Linked DNA regions of Homo sapiens. The protein of the gene in region 1 purifies or fractionates together with the protein of each later gene. This does not show direct contact. Each region holds a gene or a part of one and is shown on either strand. Other genes may lie near its edges.

Region 1 (3,827 bases):
TATTTGTCATCACTCTGGAAGAAACAGACAGGAAGAAATTTAAGATCCACATGAGAGAGGATTGAGCACCGCCTTTGAGAAGGTAGTTGGGCAAGGGATCTAATTAAATAAGTCTTGGAAAGGAGAGAGACTGTCCTGCCTTAAAGAACAGAATGAAAGTGAGAGAGAGTGAAAAGAGATTTTTTTTTTTTTTAAGATGGAGTCTTGCTCTGTTGCCCAGGCTGGAGTGCAGTGGTGCAATCTTGGCTCACTGCAACCTCTGCTCCGAGGTTCAAGTGATTCTCCTGCCCCAGCCTCCCGCGTAGCTGGGATTACAGGAGCCTGCCACCAATGCCCAACTGATTTTTATATTTTTAGTAGAGATGGGGTTTTACCACGTTGGCCAGGCTGGTCTTGAATTCCTAACCTCAAGTGATCCACCTGCCTTGGCCTTCCGAAGTGCTGGGATTACAGGCGTGAGCCCCTGCGCCTGGCCTGAAAAGAGATTTTGAATGGAGCTAAGTAAGAGAAGTGAAGTTGAGGTATGTCAAGTTGAAGTTCTCGGTTTTCTCAGTAAGAGCAGAGACAAGGTCACTTGCAGGTAATGAAGTGGTGGGATTTGAGAAGGGATTTCAGAGATTGGAGACTGCTCTGGGCAATGTGGTATAGAATGTAACATGTTATGAAGGGATTTCAGAATACCTGTGAGAACCCAGCTGAAGTCATCATGGAATTGTAGTTTTTCTAAATATTGTCGTTTTGTGATTTTTTTTTCCTAGCTAAGAGTAATTACAGTAGTGTATTCATTAGCAGTGTGGGAGCACATAATATCAAAAGAATGAACCATTTTTGAGTGGCATTGAACATATTACTGAAATAATTAACCAGAAAATCCATGCTTGGTAGGAAAATTAGTAAAGTCAAAATGTGGGTACTAGACCAGGAATAGAGGGAAGATGAAATAATAAGAATGGTGAAGATGGCCAGATGTGGTGGGTCGCCCCTGTAATCCCAACACTGTGGGAGGCTGAGGCAGGCATATCACTTGAGCTCAGGTTTTCAAGACCAGCTTGGGCAACATGATGAAACCTCGTCTCTATAAAAAATATAAAAATTAACCAGGCATGGTTGTGTGCACCTGTGGTCCCAGCTACTCCAGAGGCTGAGGTAGGAGGATTGCTTGAGCCTGGGAGGTGGAGGTTGCAGTGAACCCTGATCATGCCCTGCACTCCAGCCTGGGTGACAGAGTGAGACCCCATCTCAAAAAAAAAACCTCAAAAAGCAAACAACAACAACAACGAAAATGGTGAAGATGGCCAGGGGCAATGAAGGAATGAGAGGAAGGACAAGAGTTTATTAGGATGGAAACTGCCGAGCAAGATAGGAAGGTATCATTTAAATTAACTAAGAACTAACCCAACTCTTGGGTGACTGTATATGTCATAGGTAGCCGTCATGGTAGCAAAGCCTCTATGCCTGTTGTTCTTAGCAGGGGTACGCAGATGAATGGTCTGTAGAACACTTTAAATATAAATGCTCAATCCTCCAAATATTCTACTAGTAATAGGTCTGGGATCTATATCCTCTAGGCTGTGCAATCCAGTATGATAGCCACTGGCCACATGTCACTTTTAAGTACTCAAAATATCTGAATTGAGATCTTCTATAGGTGTAACCTATATAAGGGATTTTGAAGACTGAGTGTGAAAAAAATGTAAAATAATCTTAGCAATTTAAAAATATTATCGGTTGAGCATCACTCAAAACCTGAAATCTGAAATGCTCCAAAATCCCAAATGTCTTGAGTGCCAGCATGACACCACAATGGGAAAATTTTACACCTGACCTCACATGATGGGTCACAATCAAAACGCAGGTGCACAACCCACAGTTTATTTAGCCTGCTGTTGTTAGTTGTTGCTGTTGTTTAACAGCTGAGACCGGCGGTTTATTGGTTGTTTTAATGAGGATGCTAATAGGTGGCTACCTATATCAGTTGGGATCTTAGGAAAAATGTCCAATTTATTATATCACATCTTTTGGCTGGTGGGGGAGAGTGGTTCCTGTGGCAATGGTTTACACTAATTTGGGAAGCCCACACTAAAGGATGAAGTATTATTTGAGCTATAGTAGCACATTATTACTTCTAATGCCTTTTCAAGAGCTGACTGCCAGCAGATATATTTCACTTTATGTAAATAACTCTGAATTGTCTAGGACCTGATTTATTTATTCCCTTTTTTATTTCTCCTTTAAAGGAAATTACATAAGTATACTCCATATTACGTCGTTGCTTGATAATTTGAAATTGTCTATTTTTGGTTGGGCCAAAAAGATGGGATTTGTAGCTGGGGGAGGGGATGCAATTTTTTTGAACAAAGTTTCTCCCAAGGTATTGGACATTATCAGAAATAGAACAAAATGAATTGTGCTTTTTAAAAGATCTTCCTGGAATGTATATATGTTTACTACCATCTCTTTTTAAGACAAATACTCACAAAGTTCTATTCTTTGAAGAAAGGCTCTGCCATTCTATATTTCTTTTTAAAAATAAATGTTATTTTACAGGACTCCCTGTATTAAAAAAAAAATGCCACTGCGTCTTTTTTGTCTTTTTTACATCTCCTTTTTTCATACTTATATAAATATGCTTAATCAGAGTGCATTTTAATTCATACTTTATGTTTAAAATAGGTTTTGCTGATTTGGGAAAATAAAGACTATGGATCAACTAGGAGTATTGTTCGTATTATTGGGAAAATGCTTCCACTGGAACCTTGTCGAAGACCTAATTTTGAGGTAAGTCAGTCAACATAAATTGTTTAAGTACCAAGTACAAAATAATCCTAGGTACTCTTACAGGTATGGGGTAGAACAACAAAGGAAGAAACATTTCCTGCAAGCCAAAAACCTGTAGTTTACCCTTGGGAACAAGCCATTTCATATATGTTTTTGTGTTTTTGTTTATTTAAATACAATCATGCATCGTTTAATGATGGGGGGATACATTTTGAGAAAAGCGTTGTTTGGTGATTTTGTCATTGTGCAAACATCACAGAGTGTACTGGCACAAACCTAGATGGTATATGGCCTATTATGCACCCAGGCTATATGGTATGACCTGTTGCTTCTAGTCTGCAAACCTTTTCAGCATGTTACTTTACCGAATACTGTAGGCAGTTGTTACACAATGGTAAGTGTTTGTGTGTCTAAACATAGAAAAAGTATGGTAACAATGCAGTAAAAATTAGATAAAAAATGTTACGTCCGTATAGGGCACCTACCATGAATGGAAGATGGGAAGTTGCTCTGGGTGAGTCAGTGAGTGGTGAGTGAATTTGAAGGCCTAGGACATTACTGTACACTACTGTAGACTTTATAAACACTGTACACTTAGGCTACACTAAATTTATACAAAAACCCTTTCTTCAATAATACATTAACCTTAGCTTACTGTAACTTTTTTTATAAATGTTTTTATTTTGTAAAAATTTTTGACTCTTTTGTAATAATACTTATCTTAAAACACACATTGTACTGCTATACAAAATATTTTTATATCCTTATTCTATAAGCTTTTTATGATTTAAAAATTTTTAAATTTTTTATACTTTTAAAATTTTTTTGTTAAAACTAAGACACAAGCACACACGTTAGCCTAGGCCTACCCAGGGCAGAATCATCAATATCACTGCCTTCTACCTCCACATCTTGTCCTACTGGAAGGCCTTCAGTGGCAATAACATGCATGGAGCTCTCATCTCCTATAATAACAATACCTTCTCCTGGAATACCTCCTGAAGGACCTTCCTGAGGCTGTGGTATAGTTAACTTTTTTTTTTTTTTTT
Region 2 (2,889 bases), on another chromosome or scaffold:
GCCCTGACATTTGTCCCAGTTGTGCAGGAGTAGCTGTCACATGGGTGGTGATACCAAGACATGGCTGCGTCTGCCACCCCGAGAAAACAGATGATCAACTTTACTGTCTGCCCAGCCATTACCCTCCAAAGTCCCAGCTGCAGACAGGATGCAATTGAGCATTTGGCTTTGGGATGCTTTACTGCAGGTGCGGGGGGTATCCATCTTATATCTGGGGGCCCACACTGTCCCGTAGGGGGCCTATGTCTGTTGGATATTGCTGGTTTGGCTGCCACTGGGAGTGGGGCGAGGGTCCCAGCATTGAGAGGGAGAGCCTTAGGCAGTGTTGTGACGCACCTGTCACTCCTTCAGATCAGAGCCCTGTGCCCTAGCCACGGTTTTCAATGAGGAATGGTCTGACCTTGCTGCCCTTCCTGGGACCGCCTGTGGTGGCACAAAGGGTGCTAGAGGCACTCAGCCAGGCCCTGCCAACCGTGGGAGGGTACCCTTTGATCTGGGGGGAGAAGCAGAGAGGAGGGATGTGGTGGCCCCTGAAGTGAGAGTCCCAGTTCTGCGGAAGCCCAGTGGGAAGGAGGCTGGCAGCTCCCAAGGCCCTGCACCCAGTCTGGTCCCCTCAGCCCCCCAGAGCCCCTGGCCCAGAGCTAGGGCTTTGTGGGCCACCTGAAGGCTCCTTCCTCATGCCCCTAGGGGGCTGGCCATGCATTTCCAGTGTCTTCTTCCTTTCCCCTTTCCCTGGCTGCCACCAGGTGGGAGGTGACCCGAAGCAAGACTTGCTTTAGGAACGGGCAGCGTTTGAAGAACCCCATCAGCCTTCTCCAGCTCTTTTTTTTTTTTTTTTTTGGTTGGGGGTAAGGGGCCTGTGCCCCCTCGGCTCAGGAGGAGGGTGGGAGAGGAGGGCGTGTGCCTCAGAGAACCGTTTCCTGCCCCCAGGCCTGGAGGCCCCAAAGGCGCCAGAGGAGCTGGGAGCCCCTGTCCCTGGAGCGGAGCCAGCGCGGGCGAGGGCATGGAGGGGGCGTCGGCCCAGGACACGCGGGCGAAGGCAGCTTTTGCAGTGCAGCGTGGGGCCCGGGGGCCCGGCCCGCGACTCGACTCATCTCGATTCGACCGGCGGGCGGCGGCGAGAGGAGGCCAAGGCCTGGGCTGCCCGGTCTCTGCGCGTCCCGACTCCGCCGCGCCCGCCAGCCCCACCTGCTACTTCTTTTTGGGGAAGAAGCTGAATCTCTTCTCCTTGTCTTTCTTGCCGAGGCTGGCGTCGGGGCCGGAGAGGGAAGGCAGGGGCAGGCTCTGCGCCTTGACGCGGATGCTCTGGGACTCGTTGATGGCGGTGCTCACGCCCTGCAGCCAGGACAGCATCTCCTCCTGCGGGGCGGAGGGTCACGGTGGAGTCTGGAGGCCCACAGCCCCCCACCTCCCGGGCCAGGCAACAATGGTGGGGGCTCTTGGGACTGCCCCTTCTGAGGGGGCCTCCAGGGCAAGCGGCCTGGGGTCCTCCACCTACCCCCTTCTTAGCCAGGTCTGGGCTAGGCTGCCCGCGCTTACCTCATCCTTGCCATGGAAGAGCCACTCGCTGCCATTACTCAGCCTAGGAGGACAAAGGGTTTCCTGTCATGGAGACACCTCTGGAGGGGGCGCTGGGCAGAGGGCTGGCTCTGATCCCACAATACCCTGAGCCGAACATCCAGACCCCTCTCAGGCAGCCCAGCACTTTCTGAGAGGTCAAAGTCTGGACCATCAGCCTCTTTGATTTGAAAAACCCCTGAGGAGCAGCTCAGGCCTGGCACTGGTCCCCTACAGAGGGCCTCTGCCCTGCCACTAATGCCAAATCAAGCCATCAACCCGAGCTTTCAAAGGCCAGGAAGGCCTCACCTCAGCTTAAAGACGTGCTTCTTCTTCTTGTAGTTGGCAGCAATCTCACAGATGGCATGTCTCAGGGCCAGGGGTTCCTCCCCATGGTAGGGCATCCCCAGGGCCAGGTTCTTGGCATCCTTGTAGAAGGTTAGCTCACTGTTCCTGAGCACACAGTACAGGTTGTTCCAGGACCTGCAAAGATGCAGACAGGCAGGTCACCCACATCCTGATATGGTATCTCTAGAGTCAATTCCTATAGCTTCACCATTAAAAAAAATTACACCATGTTTGTTCTGATACATAGTAACATGTTTTATTGTTAAAAAATCATCTGCATGTAATTTCATTACAAAAAATTAGCTATTATTAACATTTTATGTATTCCTTCTAGTCTTCACATTTTCGCATTTTTTTTTTTACTAGTCACAGATAGCTAAAACTGGGTTATGGATATATTCAATTTTATATCGTGTTTCTAAGCATAACACTAAATCATGAGTATTTCTCCATATCCTCAAATATTTCTTTTTTTGCCAGGCAAGATGGCTAACACTTGTAATCCCAGCACTTTGGGAGGCCGAGGCGGGCGGACCGCCTGAGGTCAGGAGTTCAAGACCAGCCTGGCAAACGTGGTAAAACCCCATCTCTACTAAAAATACAAAAATTAGCCGGGCTTGGTGGCGCATGCCTGCAGTCTCAGCTACTCAGGAGGCTGAGACAGGAGAATCGCTTGAACCCGGGAGGCGAAGCTTGTAGTGAGCCGAGATTGAGCCACTGCACTTCAGCCTGGGTGACAGAGACGAGACTTAGTCTCAAAAAAAAAGTATATATGTAATATATATTTATATATACTTTTATTATATAATTTATATAATATTTACATATTTATTATATAACATATATACCTATTATGTATAATATATATTTATATGAAATATATAAATATATAAAATATGTATATTACATTATATATCATATACTATATAATACATATTTTATACATCATATAATGTATATTTTATACATTATATATAATACATT

Evidence for each region.
Region 2: the proteins of MTFR2 (region 1) and SPTB purify together in Homo sapiens (affinity purification with mass spectrometry; one large-scale study listed by BioGRID and IntAct). This does not show direct contact.

The regions. Positions count from the first base shown.
Region 1 is NC_000006.12:136,243,716-136,247,542, reverse strand, and holds part of MTFR2 (mitochondrial fission regulator 2), read left to right. Parts: exon of another isoform or gene 1-82; intron 83-2,673; coding exon 2,674-2,778; intron 2,779-3,827. UniProt on the Homo sapiens protein: May play a role in mitochondrial aerobic respiration essentially in the testis. Can also promote mitochondrial fission.
Region 2 is NC_000014.9:64,748,115-64,751,003, forward strand, and holds part of SPTB (spectrin beta chain, erythrocytic), read right to left. Parts: intron 2,136-2,889; exon of another isoform or gene 2,041-2,135; coding exon 1,867-2,040; exon of another isoform or gene 1,583-1,866; coding exon 1,540-1,582; exon of another isoform or gene 1,360-1,539; coding exon 1,192-1,359; 3' UTR 1-1,191.